3 linked regions of the Homo sapiens genome follow. The protein of the gene in region 2 binds, or shares a complex with, the protein of the main gene of each other region. Each region holds a gene or a part of one and is shown on either strand. Other genes may lie near its edges. The genes, in order: GNAI1, HRH1 and GNAS. A codon is read from its position in the direction of its gene.

Region 1 (9,929 bases), on a different chromosome or scaffold from region 2:
CCTTTACTAAAAATACAAAAATTAGCTGGGTGTAGTGGCGCATGCCTGTAATCCCAGCTACTCGGGAGGCTGAGGCAGGACAATTGCTTGAACCATGGAGTTGGAGGTTGCAGAGAGTGGAGATTGCACGACTGCACTCCAGCCTGGTGAAGGAGCAAGACTCCATACCAAAAAAAAAAAAAAAAAAAAAAAAAGAAAATTTCCAACCTAACATTAAAATATAAACTCTCTCATACTATTGGTTACATTAAAACGACAGAAGTGTCCTCAAGTTGATTAGAGATTGCATTTTCTCATTTTCCAGTATCAATATGTGAGACACTTAGTTTTCATTATGAAAACGAATTATGAGAGTTTTGTTTTTGAGGCATTTCATTCAAAGCACGTATCAACAACCATTTGTTAAGCACTGATTATGATTTTAAAGGCACCTTAAAACTATTATTTATAATCAAATAACAGCAAATTGTATTGACGGCTTATACATTCCACACTCCCCTCTAGGTACTTAACATGTACTGTGAACTTATTTAATGCTGACAACAACCATTAAAATTAATGGATTATTTAATCCTTATTTATTTTCAGATGATATAAATGGAGGCAGAGCAAAACTAAATTATTTGCCCAGATTTTCCCAGTTAATAAGAAATTGAGCCAGGATTTGAAGCCAGACGGGGTGCCAGAGCCTAGGATTTTCACCATCACTTTCTACTTCCAACATAACACACTAAGCAATGATGATGCTACCATCTGTAATAATGATTACAGTATCAACTAAATTCATTTACATAAGGTGGTTCTGCAAACGGCAAATGATGTAAAAAATGGTAACTGTGCTCTTAAGTAGCTTCACATCTAAGGAGTAAAAAATAGCTCTGATGAAAGACATTAATAAGTATCTCCTTTTTTAAATCTGAAAAACTATTATGGCTCAGAGGAACTCAAGGGCAGAGTGGGGATAGGCGAAACACTACTTACACATTTTCTGGAAATAAGGTAGCATCTTTGGGGTCCTCTGACAGACATGGAGTCAGAAGCTCTAGGTTTAAAACCTTCATCTGGTCTTGCTCAAGTTAATTAACCTCTTTAAGCCTTTTTTGATCTCTAGTTACTGTCAGTATTCAATGAGAACATATGGATTTTAATCAGTACTTTTTCAGTAACAAACTGAATTCGATTAAACTAGATTAGGCATAAAAAAGTAGACTTTTAGAAGGTTACTGAAATGAAGAGAATTTTAGAAACCACAAGCGCCTTAGGGACTTTAAGAATGGCAACTGGGACAATGATTGGCTCACTCGTCCAATGCTGGAGGACTCGGATTGGTCAGGTCTAAGCCTAGAGACGGAGAAGTAAGAAATGCGATTGGCAGCTCTATCAGAATCATGTAGTTCCCAGAAGGGCACCCTGAAGAACAGATGCCAGAGGAGTCTAAAAGAGGTATCACAAACAAATTTAAAAGTGCCAAATTTAAAAGTGCCAATACATTTTACACACCATTTTAAAAGTGCTAATAAAAATAACATTGACAGACACAAATGAACACTTCCCACATTGTAGGCACTGCTCTAAGCATATCACATGTAGTAAGTAATACAGTACTTGGAGGAAAGCCCAGGTTATGCACAGGACACTATTTGGATACAGTGTAGAAAGGAACAGGCCTCAGGTGATGAAGAGCATTAAATGGCAGGCTAACTTATACTTAATTTTATTGACAAATCAGAGCCAATGCAGATCAAGGAATAGAAGGTGATAGGGCCACAGTTCTACATTAGGATAACTAACCTGGGTTTTTCGAGAAGAGAGAAATGGGAGGTGGGGAATTTAACTAATAATGCCATTTTAAGAGGAAGTTTAGCAAAGACTTGAATAGGTAGTAGTAGGAATAGAAAGGAAAACAAACAAAAAACAGATTTAAGGCTTTGTAGAACTGTCAGTAAATTGAAATGGAGATTAGGAATCAGAAGAGTTCCACCTAATGCATGCAGGGCTTAAAACTTAGATGACAGGTTGATAGGTGCAGCAAACCACCATGGCACATGTATACATATGTAACCAACCTGCATGTTCAGCACACGTATCCCAGAACTTAAACTAAAAAGTTCCCCATTGAAGGAATAAATGATGATGGTACTTAGTAAGGAAAAATGGCAAAGTCAGGGTGAGAACTGGTGTAAGGAGAGAATGATGATGAATTTAGTTTTGAATATAATGAGTTAAAAAGCAGGCAATGCATTCTCAGAAGGGGATATCAAGAAGGCAATTCCAAATGTGGCATCACATCTCATAGCTTGGAACAGGGAAAATCTGAGCTTCTGGAGTAGCTGAAATTGTAAAAAGAGCATAGAAAAAGAAGAAATGAAGAAACAACAGACTGATACTTAAATTCTAATCCAAAATGTACTTAGCCAATAGGTTTGTAAAATTTTAAAAATTTAAATTTATTAGGATTTATTAACACAATTACACAGAATAAAGTTCAGGATTTCATTAATGATGGTCACCAATATGTGCTTCTTTGTGGCTTTTTAACCCATAATTCTCATGATTCAAATTTATTCATATTATAGTTGAATTTCATACACAGCTTCACAATGTGGATATTACAGGTCCACCAGTAAAATTAATGAAAACATATCTTTCATGAAAGGCACATAAAGAATCTAAACTAACACATTTAAGGAACTTTGATAACTTTGAATTTCTTTACATTACAAAGAAGAAAATCCTCCAAATGAAACAGATATGAATATAGTTTATGGTTACACACACACACACACACACACACACACACACAAATATACTTCAACCCAGTGACAACACGTAACTTGGAAACTACTTACCAGCAACGTGTACTGAAAGACTAACCTTTTCCAAGATGAGTAAAAAAAGGAGGGTGGGGTGGGGAGTGCTGTTTACTTTGCTGAAACAAGGTCAGAGATGACACATCATGAATAATCAAAAGAAAATTATTCTATCAAAGCTCAGTATCTAGCTGATACATAACACTTATTTGAGCACACATATAATCACTGACTTATTAAACACTATTACTCATTTTCTAAGTGTAATCGTCCATTTCATTCTCAGAAATAATAGTATAATTGAAAAAGAAATGATATAATCTCAAGCAAGTGGAGAAATTTGAATTATCTAAGGGAAAAAAGTAATTTTAACATAGTGTGATAATTACATTTGAAATTAGTTATATGTATAAATTTAAATCTTGCATTATATCAGCAATAGAGTATTCAAAGATCCTTCTTGTTATCTTCCCAACAAGGAGCTATCATGTATGCTAGGTACAAGAGACTCCTCAAGGGAAATAAAAGCCTCACCAATCAATGTCTCAAAATTCATTATGTCCACAGGTTTTTTTTTTACCCACAAAAATGCTCTTAGGATCCCTCCAAACTTAGTTATAAACAAAAATGTAGTTATTTAAAGTGAATAAAAATTAAGATGACATCACCTTTGAGGCAATGCATTCATATCAGCCAAATATTAAAATTCAGAGTGAAAACAAGTGAATAAAAACTAAGTGTGTACAATAAGTCTAAGACAGTATATCCTCAGAAATCTGAAATTTTAGTTTTTCAAACCAAATCTAACGTGGAATCTAATGTAAAATTAAATTATTTTATTTTCTTAAAGTAGGAAAAATCAAAATGCATACAATGTTTAAATAGTTGATCCAAAGGCAGGTGTATTCATCTTAAGAACATTTCAATAAAACACATAAAATTTAAAGAACAAATCATGTTATTAAAATAGTCTGTGCAATGTTTGTACAAATAACATTTTTATTAATACAAGTATACATATAATCTAGATAAGGGCTGTAATGTTTCCTAATATTAATTACTGTACTTAAAAATTTACAGGACATGAACATAAATAAAGCTGTTTAAAACTGGCAAACGTAGTAATAGTCTGTCATTCAGTACAAGGTATATTTATGTTATTTCCAAAGCCATCACCCTAAAATCCTAAGTTGCCACTCTTAAAACCTAAAAATAATGTCGAAAACTAAAGTCATAAATACATGTATACATACATTTGCATATTTACACTTATGCAGAAATCATCAATATACTAGAGCCCAGCTTTAACACTGTCCTTCAGTTTCACACTGCAGGACCATCTGTCACATTTAAGAAAGGTCCTTCTGTTACTTTCAGTTAAAAAAACAAAACAGAACAACTTTGGTCAAGTCCCAGATGCATTTGCCTTATATTACATTCTGTGTTGCTGCAAGACTCTAGTCTACAGAGATCCATATATAAGTACTCATTTGGTTTGAAAATGCATTTTACCATGAACTGCAAAACTTAAAAGAGACCACAATCTTTTAGATTATTTTTTATGATGACATCTGTTACAGCATCAAAAACAAACTGCACATTCTTAGTATCTGTGGCACATGTGAAGTGGGTGTATATTTCCTTTGTGTCCTTTCTTTTATTGAGGTCTTCAAACTGACATTGAATATATGCAGCTGCCTCTTCATATGTGTTTGATCCTGAGATGGAAAAAGGAAAGAAACATAAATGCAAAAAGTTAAAATAACTGCTTAAAATACTGAATTCAGTTTCATACATATGAAACTGAAGTCAGTTTCATACAGTTTCATTCATGGACTCCTTAACTGTGCTTTCCCTTCTAGAATGGGAGACACTATTTCTTCTAAATGAAAAACACTCCATGTTAATTACCTTTAATGACTAAGTTATCCCTTAAACAAAAAATTTCCTTTACATGGCATTCCGTGTTCATCATGATCTTTGTTCCTGCCTCAATCCTCAAATGCCAGATCTTTTATCCTCTTATCCTCTGTCCTCTACACCCCAGCTCAGATGCTTGACGACGGCATGCTATTTCAGTTCTGGCCCAATGGTGGATCAAAAAATGTTGGCTGAATGCTGATCAGTATTTTTTCCTCCCTTTTCTATATATACATTAATTTGCATTCTTCACTCATTTTTCTTTATTCAAAAATTGTACCAAGGTCTACAATGATGTTTAGGAGTATGAGGTTACAAAAAAAGTGAATGACACACTCCAGCTTTCAGGTTATTGACTATAAAAGACTTCCTCTGAGTACAAACACTCCAGAAATTGTTTGGCAATATCTAAAGATAATCACACACACACTCTGACCCCGCAATTCAGTTTCTAGATATACACTTGACAGAACTGTGTATCACTGAAGACACAGAAGAAGTGAGAATGAAAGTACTCAGTAACATGAATTAATCTCCTAAGTGTACTGTTGAGCAAAAGAAGCTAGATGCAAAAAGATCGCATACTGTATGATCCAACAATGTTTGAAAAATGAACTGGTGAGGACAAAAACCTCACCAATAGTGTCTGTGGAACATGTGAAGTGGGTGTATATTTCCTTTGTGTTCTTTCTTTTATTAAGGTCTTCAGTGATTATCAGTGAGTAATCAGTGATTACTATGTGTATGGGTTGTGATTGTGTTATGTGTGTGTTGTGGGGAGGGTTTGATTGGTTAAGACTGAGAGGAAGCATGATGGGGCTTTCTGGGGTCCTGAAGCTGTTTGGTTTCTTGACCTGAGTGGTGGATACTGGTACATTAACCTTTAAACACGCACTTATGCTGAGGGTGTGTGTGTACGTATGTATGTATGTACATAATATTATAATATACATTAATGTATATAATGTAATGCTCTATGTAATGCTTCAATAAAAAAACTGAAAAACATTCAAATTTCATTTGGAAAAAAACTGTTTAAACCCCTCTTTTGTAGTAATAATCCAAAATTATCTGCCAGACTTTCAAGGTCCTCTACTACCCAGCCTGCTCTGCAGTGCCATCATTCTGAGATCCTCTCCTCCACACTGGCGCTCACCCCAGGTCCATGTCGTGAGGACCTAACATGCAAACTGCCACCTGTGGTACTGTAGTACTTCCTCTTCATTCTACTTCACCGGCTGAGATCTCTGCCTGCCTTCACATTTGCTCAAAATTGGCACTCCATCTAACTTTTCCTAATTAATCAAATCTAGCTGGGTTCTCTATCACTTAAAAACTTTTTCCTCCTCCTAGAAATAACTATTTCAGTTTTTGTTATATTGCTTTATAGAGTCTTAAATTCTTTTTCAGTGCTGAATCTCCTAAACTAGAATGTGAACTCTTCAAGAGTAAATATCATACCCCACAAGCCTCATACTCCTTTTATATCTTATAGAATCCAGTGTAATACAATGTGACAAATGCCCATAGGAATGTTGTGTAATGTGCTATGACAGCATAGATTATGAGATTTTTATTAGGGATAAAAAGGTACTAAAGCTATCGTCTTTAAGTTTACATTTTAACTCTTTTATATCACTAGAAATCACATACTTTTAAAAATCAAATTTTATTAAATCATAAGTTTCGTTCTCCAAAATTTTAAAGCAATCAACAGCATCTTGTTGGCCCACAGAAGCTAATGCAACTGCTAAATTAAACTATGCTTCAGCCAAACAGCTTACATTGAGTGCCTAGCTCAATTTGCTCTATATATCCTAGGCAGCTAGCTAGATTACCCTAAAAGCTACAACACATATGAATGAACATTCTTCATTCTGATTTTAAGTCTTAAGAAACAAATGGCAAAGCAGGGACAGGAGAGCAAATATGATAGATTGTTTTTTAATGTGTGATAGAATTGTCCTGAACAAAGGTAAGTATAGGTGATAACCAGGTTCAAAAATGAAGAACTGGGAGGCTGATGACACAATCAAAAGGGAAAGAGAAGAGATCTGAGTGTAAACAAGAAAAAGAGTTCTGTTTGAGCTTCAGGTGCTAACCAACCAACCAACCGACCAACCCAACCAACCAAACAACAACAAAACATGTATGTTCAAGCAGTTGCTAATGTAAATCTAAGGCTCCAGAGAGAAATTAGGGCTGACCACAAAATTTAACCTATTGAGAATAGATACGACTATGAAAGGATAAGAGAGCTAAGATGACGTGACTGCAGATGAAACTGGTGAAGTGGCAACATACAGGAAAAAGAAGAGGAGGAGAAGGGTAACACAGGAGCAGACAGACAGGAGATAAATCAAGTGAGTTGTTTAGGGGCTACACAGGGTTCTTCCACAGCCACAGGAAATTGAGAGTTGCGGCTGAAGCAAGAAGCAACTGAATCAATACTTTGGGCATGCCATGGAGATCTTAAACAATAATCTTAACTCTGGGGATGTGAAAGAATTATGTAATATTCTTTTTGTGCAAAGATTCTGAAGTCAGGTATTCTTATTAACTTAAGCAAAACACAAGCAAAAATTCCTAAACACACTGTCTACTTGGCAAGGAAAGAGCTAACAAGTATATTCTTAGTTGCTCTAAAATCCCCGTAGGTATACAATATTTATGGATTCACTTGGGGAATCTGGTACTATGAATTAGTACAAAATGGCTACATCATAGAATATGATAAAAATAAACTGAAAAATATATTCAAATAAGGGAAAAATTAAGCCATCTTGACTCTGGGTAGCTTATTTCTAATAAGCACAAAAAAATGTTGCTGAATACAGTGATTTAGGACTTTGACTTTCAAAAAGAAAGCAAAGTTTTAAAGTAAGTAAATGTGTGAAATTAGTTTGAACTGAAGTGTAATTTCACCGTACACAAAAAGAGCTATAAGTAACATGATTATATTTACCAAAGAACCCTCCCCTTTTGGTTCCACTGAATGTTTAATTAAATGTAGCCTAGTCGTTCATGGTCTAGGAGCAGGAGGACAATGGACTTGGGTCTGGAACTGGACTCTGGCTTCAGGAAGCCCCGGTATTCTCATTTGTATGGGTAGGGATACCTGAGCACTGACATCACAGGGTTGTCTTAACATTTCCTGTAAAATGGCAGTGAATACTCATCGTACAATTTACTCAACACAAGACTGAGGAAAATTCTGTTTATAAAAAAACAAATTCTTGAGACTTTTAAAAAAAAAAACAGGAAGAGTGGGGTGAGGGTAAATAACTAAACTCTTCAAACTATCTAGATTTGGAGATTACATAAACCAGTGGTAATCAAACTCCCTGTTTTTTTAAGGCATACTGAATGCTCTTCACTAAAGTAAAACTTTACTCAATACATAAACCAGATGAAAGCTGAGTTACTCTGCTTTAATGAAAAAGTTATAAGGTGGTGGGTGCAGGGGGCAGTAATTAGCTCTGTTCCCTCTCCCATTTCCGCCTTCAACAGCAACCCAGGAGGTGCTCCAAGGAACTAAATTAAACTAAAACTAATGTTTTAGCCCAACTCCTGACTTCACAGATGGAATACTGAGACCTAGGTGAACTAACTGCCTTGTTCAAGATCAAAGAGCTAATTATGGAAAAGTCAGGACTGTACTTCAGGTCTACTTTCCTCACTCCAGGGAATTTTCCATCATAGTAAAATTAAAGCACTATTAACAGTCTCATTACCAAAGTTTTGGCTTCTTGTGAAACCTTCCCTGCCCTTCTGGAAGAGTTAGCTGCCTCAATGATCCTGTCTTCATTTCCCCTTACTATAATGTTCATGTTCCTTATTTTAGCAGTAGGTTGCACTGCTATTGCCTGTTGTTTAAGTATGTCTGTCTTTCAGATTAGATGGTGGGCAGAGACATGTCTTATTTATTGTACATCACACAGTACCTGATATGAAATCTGTTAACTGGATTTAAAAAATAGTATTTTAACTTGGAGTCATCACTAAAAATTATCTAACTGCTTTTCCATAAAATGAATACATTATTTTCAGTAATTTCATCTACATCTTAAGGAAATTTTTATGCTCAACTGCAGTTTGATAAATAATACCCCTTAAAGGTCTAAGAATCACTAAGCCAAGAGATTTAAATTAACAACTGAATTCTTGCCTTAGGGGAAGTTTCACTTAGAAATATGTAACTTGACAAGTTATTCCCAGAAAAGGAAAATACCTGCATATTCTGGATAGCATATAGTGAGAGGGCTCTTTTTGATTTTTTCTTCAAAGAGATCCTTCTTGTTTAGAAAAAGTATAATGGATGTATCTGTAAACCACTTGTTGTTACATATGCTGTCAAACAATTTCATGCTTTCATGCATTCGGTTCTGTAATAGAAAAAAATAAAACCAATCGTCACTAACAGCAAGGATTTTTGAGGACTATTTTAAAAAATAAAAGGTGTTGTAATAAAACAGAGTTTAGTGATTGAAAAATACGTATCACAAAAATACATTTCTGCCATTTCAGAACACACTTTCACTTTAGGTAAGAGAAGTGTCTAATCATCTTTCACCACTTTTTGCATTCAACTTTTACTTGCCAAGTGCCCACTATATGTCATGCTCTGTGCCAGGGAATATCCTGCTACAGGACATTATAATCTAGGGATGTGAAGTGTGAACATGTGAAAAGAAATGACATTGTCATAGAGTTCATTTCATCTAAATTTCCATTAGAAGATAAATAGAGGTTTTTAAAGATTAATAACTTAAATTGAACAAGCTAAGACCCAATTAGCCCAATACTCTAAATATTATAATAAATATAAATACTGGAAGGACACTTCCAATTCCTGTTTCTTGACCTTCCAGGATCTGTGCTCATCAAAGAGGGCACTGATACATTTTATAGTGCTGAAATGAAAGAAATGAACATGTGGTGTTGCACTGCACCTACTACACTATAATTTCATATACTTGATTTTAAAAATACAATCGTCTCTCGGTATACTCAGGGGGATTAGTACAAAGACCTCCAAGGGTACCAAAATGTGCATACACTCAAGTCCAGCAGGCAGTTCTGTGGAACCCACACATAGGAAAAAGTGGCTTTCTGTATACTCAGGTTTTGCATCCCATGAATGTGCTTGGTTGAAAAAAATTTTCATATATGTGGACCCATGCAGCTTAAACCCGTTGT
Region 2 (11,092 bases):
GACTTAAGATACTCTAGTAACTATTCACAAAGTTGATTTCTGTCACTTGCAAACCTGAAGTAGCTCCACAGGGTTGAAATCATGTCTTTCTGGCTCAGGCCAGACATAAGAAGTGCTGGAAAAATATTTGTTAATTAACAGATAAGGTCTGGGAATCCAAAATAGATATGGGGACCAGAGCTAATGATTGCTCAGACGACAAATGAGGCTTCCTTGTTAGCAGGAAGATAGGGTGAGGCTAAGGAAGAAGACCTGCCTCTGCTGCCTGGAATGGGATAGGCAGACCATTGGGGCTCCAAGACCATGGAGCATTAAGAAAGATGCAGACCCAGGAGACTTAAAGAGGCAGAGAATGTTCTCAGACACAGCAGGGTCATGAGGCCCTGTGACACTTATTCAAGGCTACAGTGATTCAGGTCAATCCACCTTCATCATTTGTCTTGCATCTGAGTTGAGAAGAGTACATGCTCCCCACAATGAGAATTATATGTCACGTCAAGCTAGGCTTTGAAAGCCTGACAAATTGTGGAATGATAAATATTGGCAAATAAGATCTTTAACAGCATGTTTCTATATTTTATTTTATTTTATATTTCATTTCATTTCATTTCATTTTAAGACAGAGTCTCTCTCTGTCACCCAGGCTGGAGTGCAGTGGCCCAATCTTGGTTCACTGCAGCCTCAACTTTCTGGGCTCAAGTGATCCTCCTGCCTCAGCCCCCCAAGTAGTTGGGACTGCAGGTGTGCGTCACAGCCCCTGGCTAATTTTTTATTTTTAGTAGAGACAGGATTTCACCATGGTGCCCAGGCTTGTCTCGAACTCCTGGACTCCAGCCATCTGCCCGCGTCAGCCTCCCAGTGTGCTGGGATTACAGGCATGAGCCACCATGCCTTGCCAACAGCATGTCTCTATGGCACTTAGGGTGCATAAATAGCCAGGAGCATCCCAGCATCTTTTTCATGCTGAGTTAAGACTATTAAATCCACCTCCTGGAAGTCCATGCAGTGCCCATCTTCAAAAGAGGTCAGAGATTGTCCACAAGCCAAGTAGCCAAATGACCAATTTATTAAAGCCATTAGCCACTGATGGGCTGGGGCTTTCTTAGTGGGCTGGGGCTGACATTTCTGTATCATAGTCTGTTGTCTTTTATACATTCAAAAATTAATTTCCATCGTTCAGACAGGAGTACGAAGAGCAGATTGATAAAGTGGAAAGGAAGCACATTCCAGAATCAGACCTCGGAGCAGTTCCTCAATCTCTCTGGGCCTCAGTTTGCCTATTTGTAAAGATGGAAATCTCCCTCATGAGGTTGTTGTAAAGGCAACATTACATAATGGCACCAATACCATTAGATAACATTAGATAAAACACAAAGCCTGGCACATGGTATGTGCTCAGCATGTTTTAAAAATGCATAGGAGTGCCCTCTGTATACCAGACACTATACAAGCACTAGAGACACTGTATACAATAATGCATAGACCTTGTTCCTTAGACGCTGGTAATTTATATTTATTGACCATTTCTTGTTCTTGTCAGACTCAAATCCAGGTCTCTCTGACCCAGAGGCAGAGCTCACAATCAGTTCTCTCCACTAGTTGCCTTGATTGTTCAAGGTAAATAATGGACACTTAGCCACTTGTCTGTGTGAAGTGCTCTTTTCGAGTGTTCTTTGGTCCTGAGGGACCCTGAGGAGCAACTCTCTCACAGGGAGGTCTTCTGAACAATGGTTTCTGACCTGGAAACAGACCAGCTGCAGCTTCTGAAACCGGGATTAAAGTCTCCTAAACTCCCCCCGTTTTGAACAAGAAGTTTGGGGGATGCAAAGCAGAGTGAGAATGAAGCTTTTTACAAAAAGTAAATCCTTTTGAAAAGACATTTACAAATGTGATGAGAAACCAAAGAGAAAGCCCATATCAAACTCTGTTAACATTTGATGGTACATTTCAAAACATCTTCTTAGTCCAAGAGACTCAGAAAGGTAGAAATAAATAAATCACATAGAGTATGCTTTTAAACATCATATTTTAGGCAGGTAAAAATATCTCACTTTGACAGATCATGCAAAGAGGAACACAAAATACAAAACATCAGCTTGTACAGGCACTCCATATGCTATACATATTGTGGTTTAGCACCAAGCTTTAAAATATAAATCACAACCAGATTGCAACATAAACACCAAGTAAAACTACATGTTCCTATGTCTTTACTAGTTTTTGCTTACCAGGTATGGCTATGAAAGATTACAATGACTTTTTGACAAACACAACAGAACTCACAGATAAAAATGCACTTGGTTCCTTCAAAGCGTCCCCTTCCGTAGGTGCACGGGAACTCCATGTCAGCTGTTCGTCTACTCAAACATATCATTTTGAGCTGCCACCACTCTTGGGAATACCGTGTATGTGTATCTGTGCACACTTAAGAGGGCACATTGTTAAAATATTGTATTTTTTTTTTTGAGACAGAGTCTTGCTCTGTTGCCCAGGCTGGAGTGCAGTGGCGTGATCTTGGCTCACGGCAACCTCCACCTCCCGGGTTCAAGCAATTCTCGTGCCTCGGCCTCCCAAGTAAGTGGGACTACAGGCATGCCCCACCATGCCCAGATAATTTTTGTGTTTTTAGTAGAGACAAGGTTTCTCCATATTGGCCAGACTGGTCTTGAACTCCTGGCCTCAAATGATCTGCCCACCTCAGCCTCTCAACATGCTGGGATTATAGGCTTGAGCTACCATGCCCGGCCAAAAGGGCACATTTTTGCCTTTCGGAGAAAATATGCTACAATAAGCTGAAACCCCAGAGGATCTGTACTCTAACTTTCTCACATAACTAGCTATGTGACCTTGGGTACCTCTCTCACCTTGCTGAACCTCAATTTGCTCCTCTGCAAACTAGAGTTAGAAAATTACCCTCCTGTGGGGTGTTGTGGGGCTTAAATGAGATAAACCTAGTACAGCCCTCAAAAATATGGCATTCTGCCCCCATTCCTTCTTTTAATTTTTAACGTGCAACCATTCAAAAATATTTCATTTCTCTTTCTTTTGAGGATGTCTTTTGCCACCACTTTTTTAATAGCCAAAGGAAATTTGGGGTTAAAGACGATGGGTGTGCAAGCTGCATAATTTTCTATCCACTCTAAACATGTTTGAGTAAGAAATAATAAGGCAGAATTTCCAGGGTGGTTCAGACACTGGTTCTGGAGAAAGCTGTTAAAGAGGCTCAGAAGAGAAGTTTTCTGAGAAGGGATAGCCCCTGTGGAACAGCTGTCATGCCTCTCAAGGTGACCCCTGGAAGGGGACAGCAACTATTGGCATGGATAAAGTCTCTGCACAGTTATACAGCTCCATTCCAGGAGGGCTCAAGAGTCCTTTTCAATTCTCCAGTGGAACCCTAGCCACGTGTCTCTTCAGTTGTCAATCACTTGACTCGGAAAGCTTGAATTACAATGAGTCTGAGGCTCCCATAGTTCCTGAGGAGCAGGAGAGTTCCACCCAGGTCTGATTCTCTCTCTCTTTTATTTTTATTATTTTTTTCTTTTTGAACCCAGTTACAAGAAACAGGTCTGACTTTCTTGCAAAGATTCTGCTTCCTCCTCAAAGTTCAATCTCTCTGCTGATCACCGCCATCTGCTGTTCTTCTATGGTGCCTAAGAACTTTCCAAACTACCAAGCCCCTAAGACTGTGGTTTGGATTCCAGAAAGCCCAGGTGCCTGCCTGGCAACACACAGGCCTTCGTCCTCTATTTCCTTGTTGGACATCATAAGGATCATTTTGTTGCATCCCCTCAGAGCCTCCCTTAGGAGCGAATATGCAGAATTCTCTTGAATGTCTTCTTGAAGTTCTCATTGCACAAGGGGTAGATGAGGGGGTTCAGTGTGGAGTTGATGTAGCCCAGCCAGATGGTGAACATGTGCAAATGTTCATTGCAACAGTTCTTGCAGAAGGCAATGACCATGAAGAAGATGAAATAAGGGATCCAGCAGAGGATGAAGGCTGCCATGATAAAACCCAACTGTTTGGCGGCCTTCCTTTCGCGGTTCATGTGCAACCCAGATACATACTGTCTTGAATGCGAGCGGAGCCTCTTCCAAGTAAACTTGATGTAATCCAGGCCTGTGTTAGACCCACTCCTCAATTTGCCTTTGCCTGGTGCTGTCTCTGTGGTGGTATCTGAGTCCGTTCGAGAGAAGGATTGGCTATCACCTAACATCTGATCCTCTGATATCTCGCTGGCCCCATGTGTGTTCAGGCCCTGCTCATCTGTCTTGAGCTGGCCATGGCTCCGGTTGACGGCTACATAGTCCCTGCTACTCCCCTCTGCCGCAGCCTGCATGTGCACAATATCAAGTGGAAAGCAGTAGAGTTTGTCTACTTCTCTATCATCCTCTTGGCTGAAGACAACTGGGGATTTCATCTCCTTGGGGGTTTGGGATGGTGACTTCAAGACAGATCCACCACCAGCATCTTTTGGCTTCCTTTTCAGAACCTCCCAGGGAGACTCCTTCCCTGGTTTCTTGGCATCCCCCTTGGGGTTCTCTGGCCTCAGCTTAATTTCTGAGAAGGAAGGGAGGGACCTATTGATGAGCTCCCGGTGCTGGCAGTGTTGTCGTACGGCCTTGTAGATCTTGGCATAGAACCAGAGCATGAGCAAGGTGGGCAGGTAGAAGTTGATGATGGCAGTCATGACCTTGAACCAGGTGACATCATAGAAGTCTGTCTCACACTTGTCCTCTCGGCGCACCGAGGTCTGCTGCATGAAGTGATTCCAGCCTAGAATGGGAATAACCCACAGAAAAGAGAGAAACCAGGCCCCCAGAATGGTGGCCGAGGCTCGGGTCTTGGTACGATACTTAAGGTACCTGAGGGGCTGCTGGACAGAGCGGTAGCGATCAATGCACAGGATGAAGACACTGAAAATGGACGCTGTGCTGGCCACATAGTCCATGGAAAGCCAAAAGAGGCAGAGAGGACGGCCCAGTGACCACTTGGACATGAGCAGGTAGAGGATGTTCATAGGCATGACGACGGCACCCACGATCAAGTCCGCCACCGAGAGGCTGACGATGTACAGGTTCCCCACAGTGTGGAGCTTCCGCTCACTCCGTACGGCATACAGCACCAGCAGGTTGAGCCCTACTGTGACCAAGCAGATAGTGCTCAGGACCACCACCAGGGGCATCAGCTGGGGGCTGGCCATAGTGGTCTTGTTGCCCTCACACATCTTGTCTTCTAAGAGGCAGGAGGAATTGGGGAGGCTCATTGGCGCAAGAGCAGCCACCAGTTATGGCTCACTCCCTGGGAGAAAAGAGAGAAAAAGTAAGGTCAGAGACTTGGGTGATGAGTGGCCACTTAGTAGCATGATGTTCATCAGACTGGAGTTGTATGCTGTTGGGGGTGATCAACACTGCTGGTTACCTACTCAATAGCCATGTACCCTTTTCCTTATTCATGCATTCATTTGCTCACTTAACAACTATTTATTGAATTTCTGTCACTCTTCTAGGTGTTGAGAATATAGCTGTGAACAAAATAGACAAAAATGTTTGCCCCTATGGAATGTGCATTCTAGTGAGAGAGTTGGGCAGAAGCAAGACAAATGTGTTTGTAGAAATCTAATTCCGCACATGTTCTGGGAAGGTGGGCTGCATCCTCATGTGTCTAAGCAGAATATAGCAATCCAGTTCCTCTTTACAGTGGCAGATAGAGGAGTGACCATGAGATACCACCATGGCCAAGGAATAGGATGAGGATGTCAAACAGCAGAGGCGGAGTTTTTAGGAACGTTCTTCCTCTCTGACAAATGATCAAAACAACAAAAATTGTTGTTGCTCACTTGCCTCTTTCTCCCTGACAGGATGTGAGGAAGTGATGTTTGAGGCCATGAGAGTCATCTTGGGACCATCGGGAAGGCCAAGAAAATGCCAGCCTAGGGCCTTGCTGTCACTAAGCTGCTGAGCCAACTCTGGAATCTTCTTCTCCCAGACTTATTATTATGGGAAATAATTAAATGGGCTTTGTTTTGCTTGGCTTTGCTTTTTTTTTTTTTTTTTTTTTTGGCTTACATCACTGTTGTGGCAGTTCTTACTTGCAGCTGAGACCATCCCTAAATGATATGGAGGAGGTTATAAGGGGACACACCAGAGGCACATAAAGCATGAAATAAATCTAGCATATCTTTTTAGAGGAAAATTCTCAAGTGAGAAGGGGATTATGTTATTGGAAAAGCATATTCGTTATTTTACTTTTCTATTTGAAAAACAAACAATTTTTTTAAATTACATAAATCATGCCAAGTAATATGTAACAAGACCCTTGCTAGTAGGCTGGAAATGGTGGCTCACACCCATAATCCCAGCATTTTGGGAGTCTGAGGTGGGAGGATTGCTTGAGGGCAAGAGTTAAAGGTGGAATGATCACTTGAGGCCAAGACTTGCAGCCTGGGCAACACAGTGGAATCCTGTCTTTACAATGAAATTTTTTAAAAATTGTCCTATAATACACCTATAGTCCTAGCTACTCAGGAGGCTGCAGTCAGCTATGATCACATCACTGCACTCCAGCTTGGGTGACAGGGCAAGATCCTGTATCTGAAAAATAAAAATGAAAACCCTTTGCTACTAAGGCTCTACTGAAAACGGACTGTATCCTCTGTTATTGGTGATACTCAAGTCGGGTGGTTGGGTGAAAGTAAGTATTAAATCTTCTGGAAGGAGTTTTTAAGATTTTTTTTTTTTTTTTGAGATGGAGTCTCACTCTGTCACCCAGACTGGAGTGCAATGGCACCATCTTGGCTCACTACAATCTCCAGCTCCCAAATTCAAGTGATTCTCCTGCCTCAGCCTCCTGAGTAGCTGGGATTACAGGAGTGTGCCACCACACCCGGCTATTTTTTTTGTATTTTTTTAGTAGAGACGGGGTTTCACCATGTTGGTCAGGCTGGACTTGAACTCCTGACCTCAGGTGATCCACCCACGCTGGACTCCCAAAGTGCTGGGATTACAGGCATGAGGCACCACGCCCAGCCATTTTTTTTTTTTTTTTTTTTAGGACAGAGTCTCACTCTGTCGCCCAGGCTGGAGTGCAGTGGCACCATCTCAGCTCACTGCAACCTCTGCTTTCTGGGTTCAAGTGATTCTCATGCCTTAGCCTCCCGAGTAGCTACAATTACAGGCACCCACCACCACGCCCAGCTAATTTTTGTATTTTTAGTAGAGAAGGGGTTTCACCATGTTGGTCAGGCTGATCTTGAACTCCTGACCTCAGATGATCCGCCCACCTTGGCCTCCCAAAGTGCTGAGATTACAGGTGTGAGCCACTGCGCCCGGCCAAGTTTTTAGATTTTCATATTCATCAAAAAGTGGTGAGTTTAAAGAAAACTGATAAACACTAATAAATAGTAAATTTCTCTCAATAATTTAGCAAAAAGAAATTATTTTTACATTAAGACAAAGCCAGATAAGTTCTTGAGTAGAAGGCTAAATTTATTTATTTATTTATTTAGAGACGGAGTCTCGCTCTGTCGCCAGACTGGAGTGCAATGGCGCGATCTCGGTTCACTGCAACCTCTGCCTCCCAGGTTCAAGTAATTCTCCTGCCTCAGCCTCCTGAGTAGCTGGGATTACATGCGCCCACCACCACGCCCAGCTAATTTTTGTATTTTTAGTAGAGATGGGGTTTCACCATATCAGCCAGGATCCTTTTGATCTCCTGACCTCATGATCCACCCACCTCAGCCTCCCAAAGTGCTGGGATTATAGGTGTGAGCCACCGTGCCTGGCCTGTAGAAGGCTAAATTTATATAACTTTTTAAGATAAAAATCAAAACCCCAAGGTGTTTGATCCTTGTGGAAGGAACCTTTTAAATGTCTTTGTTGGAAAAACACCATTTTGGGCAGCACTGATTTTGCCCAAGCTCTACCATTTATTTTCTCAGTGATCTCTTGGCCTCCATCTTCTCATGTGTCAAATGGGTAGGGTGGGATAGACAATCTCTAAAGACTTTTCCAGGTCTCTTTCTTACAGCGGTATTTTTTGATGTCCTCCAGCTCTGAGGTGCCAATCAGAGCAATCCTCTGATTGCTGATGGGGCCTCCTCTGACTTCTTCAAAAGCATCACTGTCTCCTTGGGTGACCCAAAGTCCTGCCCTATGCTCCTGTCACTCTGTGCTGTCGGCCTCGGGGATCTCATCCTCTCACTTACCTACCCCTCAGCCATCACCTCCTATGAGGACAACACTCAAACCCACAGCTCCAGCCTGTATTTTTCTCCATTCCCACATCTAATACCTTGCAGCTTCACCTTCTGCCCTGATCAAGTCCAAACCCTGTGGAATTGTCCACAGTCACTTCTGGAAGGAAGAAAGTAGGCTGTGAAAGGAAAATAACTTGGGGCCCCAAAATCACTTAAGGTAAAGGGAAAAGTCAAGTTGGGAACTGCTTAGGGCAAACCCGCCTCCCATTCTGTTCGAAGTCAGACCTCTGCTCACTGAGATAAATGCATATCTGATTGCCTCTTTTGGAGAGGCTAATCAGAAACTCAAAAGAATGCAACCATCTGTCTCTTATCTTCCTAAGACCTGGAAGCCTCCTCCCGGCTTCCAGTTGTCCTGCCTTTCCCAGACCTAAGGAATGTTCATCTTGCATATATTGATTGATGTCTCATGTCTCCCTAGAATGTATAAAACCAAACTGTGCTCTGACCACTTTGGGCACATCGTCAGGACCTCCTGTTGCTGTGTCATGGGTGTGCGTCCTCAACCTTGGCAAAATAAACTTTCCAAATTAACTGAGACCTATCTCAGATTTTCGGGGTTCATAAGGCTAAGGAAGTATTGTCTCAGGGATTTTTATTTTTTACTGTTTTGCTCGGAAGGAAGCAGGAAGTAGTTCCCCTAAACACTTCCCCAGCTTGGCATTCTCAAGGTGGCTCTCAGCTCCCTGGCCTCCAGAGGTGTCTCCTTTTTCTCTTTTCCTCATTGTCTGGCACATAGAGGGGAGAGAAACCATTTTTTATTTTACGTTATTTTTTATTTTTTAATTTTAATTTTAATTTGAGACGGAGTTTCACTCTCATTGCCCAAGCTGGAGTGCAATGGCGTGATCTCAGCTCACTGCAGCCTCCTGTCAGAGATGATAAATTCCTCTTCAAAAAGGTTTAGTTCTCTGTTCTTTGTTTCTTAAGACCAACTTCCTTGTACATCCTTGTCTCCTAGCTACCTGTTCTGTAAACAGCCTTCCTGCCTTCGCCAGGCCCAGACAAGTCCAGATATGCCTTCCCACCTAGTAACGGATAGTTCCTCTTCCTTCCCACCTAATAGACCCTATTCAATTTTAAATCTTAGCCAATCGAATTAGCTTAGATTGTGAAGTCCAACCCCAGCCAATGCGGAAAGGACACAGAAGTGCTAGGAACTGCATTAGGGATTAAAAACCCCTGCCCTACCCTGCTTGGTGTGCTCTTGCGATTGTGACTAGCACAAGCTGCACCCTTCTGCAGAAGTAAATTTGCCTTGCTGAGGAATTTTCTGCCTATGTGCTGTTTTTCTTTGTGGCACCAGGCACTTGTTTCTAACAAACTTGGGGGTTCATCTGGGATTCCCATTCTCCTCCGGGGAGGGTCTCAGATCATTTCTCGTGAGGAGACGCAGCCCGCTGCTTTGTTGCGGTGGCCTCAAGGGTAAGGGATCGAGACCCACCTGGTGTGATGAATAAACCTGGACTCTAGCAATGAGGGAAGAAAAGGCAGACAGATACTGTGGCGACCAGGTAACTCTGTGCATAGACCAAGGTAAGAAAAACCTTGGGGGCAGTGAAGTATTTCCTTGGTGGTCAGGACATCCTGGAGGTTGAAAGTGTGTGAGTAAGACACACAATTGAGTGCAGAGCAAGTGCAGAGTCCGGATCTGGTTCTGTAGTCACCTCATATGGCTTAAAGGCAGCTTGCCTGTTGTGGGGTTTATACCAACCTGCCTATGCTAAGAGGGACTTGAAAATTTCCGCAAGAGAAGCATATGGAGAAGGATAAAGCAAAAGCTGAAGAGTGTGAAAAATCTCTAGTAGGAGAGGTTGAGCCCCACAGACTCACTAGGGTGCAAGAAATCTCTAGTAAGAGAGATTGAGCCCCATGGACTCAGGGAAAAACTCTTTCTCCAGGATGGGAAATACAGCAAGTAAGACAAAAGATAGGAAATATCATGATCATGATAATATACCCTCTGATAGTCCCCTAGGCCTAACGTTAGAATATTGGAAGGATAATGGAAGGACCAAACACAAGAAAAAGCAGCAAATGATAAAAAACTGCTGTTTTGTTTGGACTGAAGAACCTTCCTCTCCCCCAAGCAGCTGCCACCACAGACCCTTCCCCTAAACCTAAAAAAGGAGCTTAAACCACTCTTAGATGACCCTTATGGAGTGGCAGATCAGATCGATCAGTTTTAGGACCCCAGATATATACTTTAGACGAGTTAATGTCTATCTTAGACATCTTATTCTCAGGAGAAGAAAGGAGCATGATACAAAGGGCTGCTATGACCATTCGGGAACGTGAACATCCTCCCGGTCAGAACGTTCCAGCGGCTGAACATAATTCCCAGCCCAGGATCCTCAATGAGATAACAACAATATAGCCCATCAAGGAAATATGAGAGACCTTAGGGAGATGGTAATAAAAGGAATTTGAGAATTAGTGCCCCGCACCCAAAATCTTACCAAGGCCTTTAATATAAAACAGGGAAAAGATGAGGGACCGACAGAATTTTTAGAAAGGCTTAAAGAGCAAATGAGAAAAATACGCTGGCCTAGAATCAGAAGACCCCCTCGGACAAGGAATGTTAAAGCTCCACTTTGTCACCAATAGCTGGCGAGATATTACTAAGAAATCACAGAACAAATGTTTCAAATGTGGAAAAATAGGTCATTTTGAAAGACAATGTCCCAAATGGGAAAAAGAAGAAAAAGTCATCCCACTTACAGCTTTTGAAGAAGACTAGGGAGGTCAGGGGCTCCATCTTTGTCTCTTGAGTCCCACCAACAGCCCTTGGTAAATTTAGAAGTGGGACCTAAACCTAAGCTTATTACCTTTTTAAT
Region 3 (7,770 bases), on a different chromosome or scaffold from region 2:
GCTTGATCACGTCGATCTTGTCCAGGAAGCTGGGAGAAAAAGAAAGACACGTGGGGTGTTCACAGCGCTCACATCAATTTGCCAACTATTTGTGTCTCTCTACAAGGTCAGGCTCAACGGAAGTGACCGTCCCACAGTTATGCAGCACTAAGTCAATGGCACATTTGCTTGTGTGTTGGTTACATTTGTAACTCAAAGCTGATGCCTTAAGAAGGTTAGGGCAAACAGGATTTAAGATAAATAATTTTAGGAATCAGGGAACTCTAGATGCGTCTAGCAGCTAGCCTGTGGCCTCGACGCAGTGGGGCCACACAAACAGCACAGCACGGTGGTGGGGCTTTGTTCTTCGTGTTTATTTTTATTTTTTCTATTTTTCTTTTTTATTCTTTACTTAGCTTCTTTATTCCTGTTGCTCTCTGGCAATATTCTTGATTTTTAGAAGGTTTTATGCATATCAACCAGTAGAGAAAGGACCCCAAAACCAGGCTGGCCTATCACATTCTGTGCCATTTGGTAATGCCTGACAAAAACATTTTAATTTTCAAATTGCTTGATTAAAATGGCAAACAGTTTGAAAATTGTATACCTCTATATCATTCAGTTAAAAAACAATAAAGTGACATTCTTAAAAACATCAAGGACTTTCCCCTCAAGGGCACACGAGATTGTTTTAGTTACTGAGAATCTGTATCCCTTCCTTTTTACTTTTTAAGAATCTCATTGATTAAAGAGAACAAAAGAGGTTGGCACAAAGGGGCCCTTCTCGCCCTAGCCATCCTGAACAGGAAACAAACACAAAGTTCTCTTCCGTTCTGTTTGGTCCATGAAATAGAACACTCCAGATATTACGCTTTTCATTAAAAAAAGCATCTTGTTTGTGTTGCTTGACTAGACACACAGGAAAATTTACTTTTGAAAGATTGGGGTAATTAATATGGAAAATTAATGTTAAAACCAGTTATTTTTTGGAGGGAGGGGCATGTAGAGATTGGAATTGTTTTAAAGCGGGCTAACGAGAAAAGAAAATCATAAAGAGAGAAAAGTTTATTTAAAGAAACTGCCTAAGTTTTCTGTTCCCCTCTTCCTTTTTACTAGTTCAGAGTTAGTCTGGCTTAGAGGATATACTAACTTGCCCAATCAATCTTACATTACAGCACCAGTCCAGAAATAGCTCCCCAGCCGCCCTGGCCTCCAGCATGTTACCATGGCAACAGAACCACAGTTCTATAAATAGATCATCAGCACCAAATCTTGTGAGAGAGACATCTGGAGTGGAGCCAGCCAAACCCCAGCTCAACAAATAAAAATAGACAGCTTAAGAAATGGGCACACTACCAGTATCTGAACTTTAACATAAAGGCAGTTCAACCAGAAACGTGCCGGCCACGGCAGATGCAGGGCTGTTTGAGCCACGGGTGAGGGAGGACATTTTAAAAGTTTTAAGCTGCGTTGTTCTCTTTTTCTCTGAGTTTCCTTAAAACTTTTCATGATCTATACAAATGGTGCGTTTTCAGACAAAGTTTCAGGAGTAATTAAGTGTTGCTTAAAAAAACCCCAAAAACTTCTAAATGATTTGAGAGAGAAAACGAAACCCGACAAAATTCAACAATCTGGCTAAGCTACTGTTAATTAACGAAACTGGGTCTCCCTGCCCCCCCAGCATTCAAAACTGGGGTGGTTAAACTCTCTTAATCTTGTACCTGTACTTAACTTCTGACTTGGATCCAAAATACAAAATGCAAACAATTCCAGGATTTCCATTTGTTTTGCGTTACTATAATTAGCGCTTCCAGCTTTTGGTTCGAACTTTTGAGAAAATCAGGGACTTTGTTGAAGAAGGAGTGGGGGCTGGGGGCCATAGGGACCAGCCAAGATGGACTGTTTTTTTCTGTTCCTTGAAAAAATATACACATTTGCTTGTATATTAAACCGTGGAATATCTATGTATGTGGCAATTGAAAATAAAGGAATTTCCTATGGGAAGGCAGGGCTGGGGTTGATAGATTGCGCAGACCCTAACAGAGGCTTATATGATTTATAGATGAACAGTATTACCTCTTCCTCCCTCCTGTTTATTCAGGTGGTTTTCACAATCAGTTCCTTGGGCTTGAGGCTACTAAGTAAAGCAATCTTAGCCCTTGGTGAGTCAGCCTGGCACCTTGGTTCTGATTAGCTAATACTTCCTATAGCAAAATCAGTTCCGAGTTTCAGCTACTTGTAATAAGGATGGCTAAAACATCAAACCTCTACTAGACTCCCCTGCCCCAAGTCACAGGACACTCCTACTTCAGAATATCATTAACTGAGACTGCTTTGTGCATTTCTGCAGCATCAACAAACAGAAGATATCTTTACATTTTTGGCTGGGCACGGTGGCTCATGCCTGTAATCCCAGCACTTTGGGAGGCCGAGGCAGGTGGATCACAAGGTCAGGAGTTCGAGACCAGCCTGGCCAATATGGTGAAACCCCATCTCTACTAAAAATACAAAAATTAGCTGGTTGTGGCGGCAGGCACCTGTAGTCCCAGCTACTCGGGAGGCTGAGGCAGGAGAATCACTTGAACCCAGGAGGCAGAGGTTGCAGTGAGCCAAGGTCGCACCACTGCACTCCAGCCTGGGTGACAGAGTGAGACTCCGTTTCAAAAAAATAATAATAATGTTTACATATTTTTTAAATAACCCTGACCACCACATGCTTGCTATATCATGTGCAAGATGAGGGAAGCCATAAACTATTTCAAAGGCAACTTTCTAGCTATCGGGTACGATGTCCTCTGGGAGAGACCATGGTGGGTGACAGGGACAGAGGGCGATCCCTGAGGCAATGGTAAGTCAGGTGTTAGGCAGCAAGGGAAGCAGCCTGGGCATCAGGTAGAGTTGTGCAATAAAGTCTGTGTTTTAAGTTCCCCCTTCTTCATTTGCCAACACACCAACCAGGTGAGCCCACCTTTATGAGTGACTTTGGAGAAAGATGCTTTTCCCATTGCTACTGCAGGCCTTAACCTGTCCTCCTCGCAGGTAGTAATTTGTTTTATTTGAAAATAACCCCACCACGGTATTGTACTGCTTAGGTGTACAGTTTAGGATTTAAAATCCATTGACCACTTACCATCCTTGAATCAAGACCCGGTGAGAAGGAATAAATAAGGATATGAAATAGAGTTCAAAAGTCAAGACAACACAAAAACAAACTCTACCTAGAGTCACTAGGATCTAGTAACACTAGGCAGCTACTAGAGTCGCTTACCTGAGAGCAGAAATAGATCAATCAACAACTACCAAGGAGAGAGGAGGCGTAGCTATGTCTTCACCATTCCTCTTTGTTATGTTTTAAAATTACAGCAATAAAATATAGTATTTTTACATTATTCAAAATGTGAGCACAGCCCTATTTCCCTAAATGCTTAGGGTCAATTCAATTAATTACTTCCTACTAATTAGGAATACTATGAAACTCATCATCATTTTGCTCTAACAGGCTTTAAATGTTTATGTAAAATAATGTCGCTGCACTAAAAGAAAAAAAATGCAATTAAGGACTTTATAAATAAACAATTGAATCAGATTAGAACTTTCTGCCAGTGGGGTAACTGGTTGGCTTCTAAGAAAGGAATCATCAACAAGTAACTTTCAAAGCAGGATCACAGGTTTTCATGTTTTCTTGTTTTTGTCTGTTTTATGTGCTGATGGGTTGGGTGGCGGTTACTTACTACTGGGCACAGTCAATCAGCTGGTACTCGTTGGAGCGTTCGTAGCAGGCACGCACTCCTTCATCCTCCCACAGAGCCTTGGCATGCTCATAGAATTCCTGAAAGTGAACACAAGAAAGTTTAGAGAAAGGCAAGAGCTTGAACTAATCAACAACACTGTCATTCAAACCCTGAGACCAGAGTTCCCTATGTGACCGACACTTGGTGTGATTTTGAATTTTGAGCCCAATTAATGAATTAATGCTCACAAAGAACTTTAATTCAACACGTTAAACATATTCAAAAGTTCACGCAATTAGCTGCTGGGTCTTATTGTGAATTACTGGTTTTGGGTAGTTTCTTTTCTCGTGTGTAGGGGGAATGGGGTAAGCTACTGAGTAATTTAGTTTCTTCACAGAATTGTTTAGGAAGAATATACACTAAATGTGTTAGAATATGCCAATAAATGGTTCAATGTTGTGAAAATAAGAAACTTCATTTGTAAGATGTGCTGGGACTAAATTTTCCTCCTGGGAAAATGTGAATCTTACCAAAAAAAATGATGATGGGGGACTTGTAGGTAGGAACATAAAAGTTCAGATGTTAGTAGGACTAATAAAAAGTTATTGTTCTGATACATTTTTAATAGGCTGCTGTTTCCTTTTCCTATTAAATATAGAATCATATTTCAAGAAAGTCAGTGGGTTATATTATACATATTGTGTTTATTGCTTTTTTTTCAAAATAATGCTATTTAAAAAGTTTAGCTATCCATACTAACTATATACCACTAAATTTCTCCAATTTAAGTTTGCAGCCAAGTCCATCTAAAATATACAAACACAAATTCCCACGAAAGCCTGACAAAAGGCAACAATAACTCATTGTTTTAGCTGTAGACAAGTCTCTTCCCTGTGGGTCTTACAAACGCATACATCTTTCCATCTCGTTTCCCGTTCCCCGCTTATAAGCCATTCTCCCCACGAAGGGGCCTAAACTTATATGCTTGGGCTTGAACAGTTTTTTGTTCCCTAAAAGTAGTTCTTTAGGGAGCCAACAGTGTCGTGCATCCAGAGGAAAGTCTTTTCCATATGTTCTATTTTATGATTTTTGAGTTATGATTTAGATATATTTCATTTTTTTTAATAATGAGAAAAGATTTCATTTGCCCCAAGGACTTTAGAAAACTCTTAATAAAAAGGTCACCTGTTTAAAATGAGAATGTCTTCCATTTGGCACTTCACTGAGGCATCCCAAGGTACCTTAGGGCACTTCCAGTGGAGTAAATGGACAATTAGTATTTGTGTGCCATATTTAACATACAGTTTTGTCCTAAGATGTGAATGAGGGAATAATTAAGCCTGCCATAGCTCAGGACCTTTTTCCTCATAAAAATTTACAATCTAATAAAGTGAGATTGTAGTATTCAAGAGTGATGTTTATTTGTGAGGACAGGTGAGCTAAGATGTAGAAGGGGTGACAGAATTTTGCTCATCCATCTTGAACAAAGCCCTAATGATTATTATTATTAAATTAAGGTTACACATGAAATTAACTTTTTCCTAAGGATGGACATCACTGAAATGTAGTTTTGCCTGAAGTGTGGTTTGGATGCTCCTGCCCATGTGCAGGGCTGTCACTCATGTTCCTATATGGACACTGTGCTCAGGTGGGCGGGGCTAAGGCCACACAAGTCGGGGTGTAGCTTACGGGAGGGAAGTCAAAGTCAGGCACGTTCATCACACTCAGGATGTAGTCCACTCTGAACTGGTTCTCGGGGTTGGCCAGCTCCACGGGGGGCACCAGGTTGCTCATGGCGGCCACAATGGTCTGAAAATGATTTAGCAAAGCGGTCAGGGAACAGCACTGGCTGGGAGGGCGCTACAAGACAGACAGCACAAGGAGCCAGCACGTACTTCAATCGCCTCTTTCAGGTTGTTTTTGATGTCCTGCACTTTGGTTGCCTTCTCACTGCAGTGGGATTGAAAAGAAAAGAAAATCATATTGCACCATGTCAGTTAGGAGTACTGCTTTCATAAAGACATCCCGACTAAAAAGCATAGTATTCTGTTCTTCAGGGAGTTGTGGGTTCGGATCTGTGCAAAGATTGGAGGTAGCTGAATAAACATAGTTGCAAATTATAACCTCCCAAATGTGCCCTGAGGACACGCCCAATCGGGGCAGATTAGCAAATTGCCTTAGCAATCATGACTGTACCAGAAGTTGCATGCAGCTCATTTAATCTTTCATGGGTTTGAAGCCCCCACACTACATACTAACACTTCCTAAAGGCTTCTCCTGGTCCTATCAACATCTGGGTAGGGGTGAGGCTGGAGTGATAGGTCACTATGAGGTTGGGGTGGAACAAAACAGTCCCATGGTTTGACTTGGAATTAACTCAGTTGCTAGCATACTGAGAGAACCAGTGAGCACAGGTGGTGGTGTTTATAATAGTTCATTACAGGAGCCCGGGTGCGGTGGCTCACACCTGTAATCCCAGCACTTTGGGAGGCTGAGGCGGGCAGACTGCCTGAGGTCAGGAGTTGGAGACCAGTCTGGCCAACATGGTGAAACCCCGTCTCTACTAAAAACACACAAAAAAACTAGCTGGGCATGGTGGCATGCACCTGTAATCCCAGCTACTAGGGAGGCTGAGGCAGGAGAATTGCTTGAACCCGGGAGGCGGAGGTTGCAGTAAGCTGAGATGGCACCACTGCACTCCAGCCAGGGCGAGAGTGAGACTCTGTCAAAAAAAAAAAAAAAAAAAAAAAAAAAAGTCGTATGTGCGATGCTCCAGGCACTGCAGCTAGCAGCAATGAAACTTCTAGTTCATGATGTTAGTGCATGTTGGTCCATGTGCAATAGGAATCAAATAAGATTCCACCCCCTAGAAGGCCTTATAATCTAAGGGGGAGGGGAGGTCAGATCCCTCTGGTAAGTAGAGGTTGAAGGTTTTGTAGCTTTTCCTTGAGTTTAACTCAGCCACATGGGATGGCCTGCGTGGTCTTTATGGAATGATCTATATTCAGGGTCACTGGTCCCACAGGTAAAGGACACACCCTTTGGCTTCTGGGGACCATAACAGAATGTTAATTTTTGTACCACATTACACTGATCCAAATGCTGTATGTTTTTCAGAAACTAGCCTTCATTAGAAGCACAGCCAGGGAAGGTTCTCGAGTTTATGTTTTTAGAGGGCAAGAAAAGGCCTCTTGTGTGGAGTATGTATCTCATCAGGTCTATAGCCCAAAAATGGAACCAGCACACACAGCACACCTGCTGTACCTGTTAGGCCCTGGGAGGTGAGGGCGTTGTCATGCGGAAAAAAGGTGCTACGGTCCTGCCTCTCTGACAGGGAAACTGAGGCCAAGAGGGGGGGAGTCACCGAGGCAGAAACCAATGGGAGATGGAGGGGACAGAGTTTATCTTTTTCACGGTTTGTATATATATATTTTTTAATCTTTTGAGAGTCCCAGTTTTTGAAGCATTCACTTGGCTGATTCACCAATTCATAGACTGGAGTAGAAATTAAAACATATAATCTCTCCAGACTAGAACACGACAGTTAAGGCAGAGGAAAGGCGAAGGGAGGTTAATTAGCAAGAGCAGACGAGCAGACGAGCAGGGCAGGGCAGTCAGTGGAGCAGCAGGGGTGGGGGGCGGGGACGGACGGTGGGGTCAAGTGCGGGCCTGTCGACAGGCCTTCCACAAATCATTTGGTCTTTCCTTTCTCAAAGAATTATACTTACAAATTTATTCTTTCTGAATAAATGTCTGTGTACTTCTGGGCCTTCACCTGCTGAAGGATCCCATCTCGCCCCCTTCCTACGTGAAGCCCCTTTCACAGGTCACTGCACCACTGCTCTTCTACATTGGGTGAAGAGCTGGGGAAGTTCAGAGGGGCCACGCTCATTAGTGGTGGGGGGTGTCTGGGGTGGGGAGGGGGGACAGATGTTGCCAGGAATCCCCTCAGGGCCATTTAAGTAAAAGTGCTGCAGGTCCGGAGAATCTCAGAAACACAGATGACAGGGAGGTGAGCGAGCTTCAGGCCTTGTGTACAAATCTGAAATCTGATTCTGGC

The links.
Region 1: the proteins of HRH1 (region 2) and GNAI1 are in contact, whole or in part, in a cryo-EM structure (PDB 9LRD), measured with the Homo sapiens proteins. Residues at the interface, in NP_000852.1 of Homo sapiens: Arg125, Ser128, Val129, Pro132, Leu133, Leu136, Lys137, Thr140, Ile213, Val217, His220, Cys221, Arg409, Lys412, Ala413, Gln416, Leu417, Cys471, Asn472; in NP_002060.4 of Homo sapiens: Arg32, Asp193, Leu194, Asp315 (codon at 4,460), Phe336 (codon at 4,397), Thr340 (codon at 4,385), Asp341 (codon at 4,382), Ile343 (codon at 4,376), Ile344 (codon at 4,373), Asn347 (codon at 4,364), Leu348 (codon at 4,361), Asp350 (codon at 4,355), Cys351 (codon at 4,352), Gly352 (codon at 4,349), Leu353 (codon at 4,346), Phe354 (codon at 4,343).
Region 3: the proteins of HRH1 (region 2) and GNAS are in contact, whole or in part, in a cryo-EM structure (PDB 9LRB), measured with the Homo sapiens proteins. Residues at the interface, in NP_000852.1 of Homo sapiens: Asp124, Arg125, Ser128, Val129, Gln130, Pro132, Leu133, Arg134, Leu136, Lys137, Arg139, Thr140, Ile213, Ala216, Val217, Gln219, His220, Cys221, His223, Lys412, Ala413, Gln416, Leu417, Cys471, Asn472; in NP_000507.1 of Homo sapiens: Gln35, Arg38, Ala39, His41, Lys216, Val217, Asn218, Phe376, Cys379, Arg380, Asp381, Ile383, Gln384, Arg385, His387, Leu388, Gln390, Tyr391, Glu392, Leu393, Leu394.

Annotation. Positions count from the first base shown.
Region 1 is NC_000007.14:80,211,902-80,221,830, reverse strand, and holds part of GNAI1 (guanine nucleotide-binding protein G(i) subunit alpha-1), read right to left. Parts: intron 9,116-9,929; coding exon 8,962-9,115; intron 4,529-8,961; coding exon 4,338-4,528; 3' UTR 1-4,337. UniProt on the Homo sapiens protein: Guanine nucleotide-binding proteins (G proteins) function as transducers downstream of G protein-coupled receptors (GPCRs) in numerous signaling cascades.
Region 2 is NC_000003.12:11,253,210-11,264,301, reverse strand, and holds the end of HRH1 (histamine H1 receptor), read right to left. Parts: exon of another isoform or gene 11,084-11,092; intron 5,300-11,083; 5' UTR 5,265-5,299; coding exon 3,801-5,264; 3' UTR 745-3,800; downstream 1-744. UniProt on the Homo sapiens protein: G-protein-coupled receptor for histamine, a biogenic amine that functions as an immune modulator and a neurotransmitter.
Region 3 is NC_000020.11:58,901,421-58,909,190, reverse strand, and holds part of GNAS (protein GNAS), read right to left. Parts: intron 5,664-7,770; coding exon of another isoform or gene 5,661-5,663; coding exon 5,606-5,660; intron 5,520-5,605; coding exon 5,400-5,519; intron 3,809-5,399; coding exon 3,711-3,808; intron 30-3,710; coding exon 1-29. UniProt on the Homo sapiens protein: Guanine nucleotide-binding proteins (G proteins) function as transducers in numerous signaling pathways controlled by G protein-coupled receptors (GPCRs).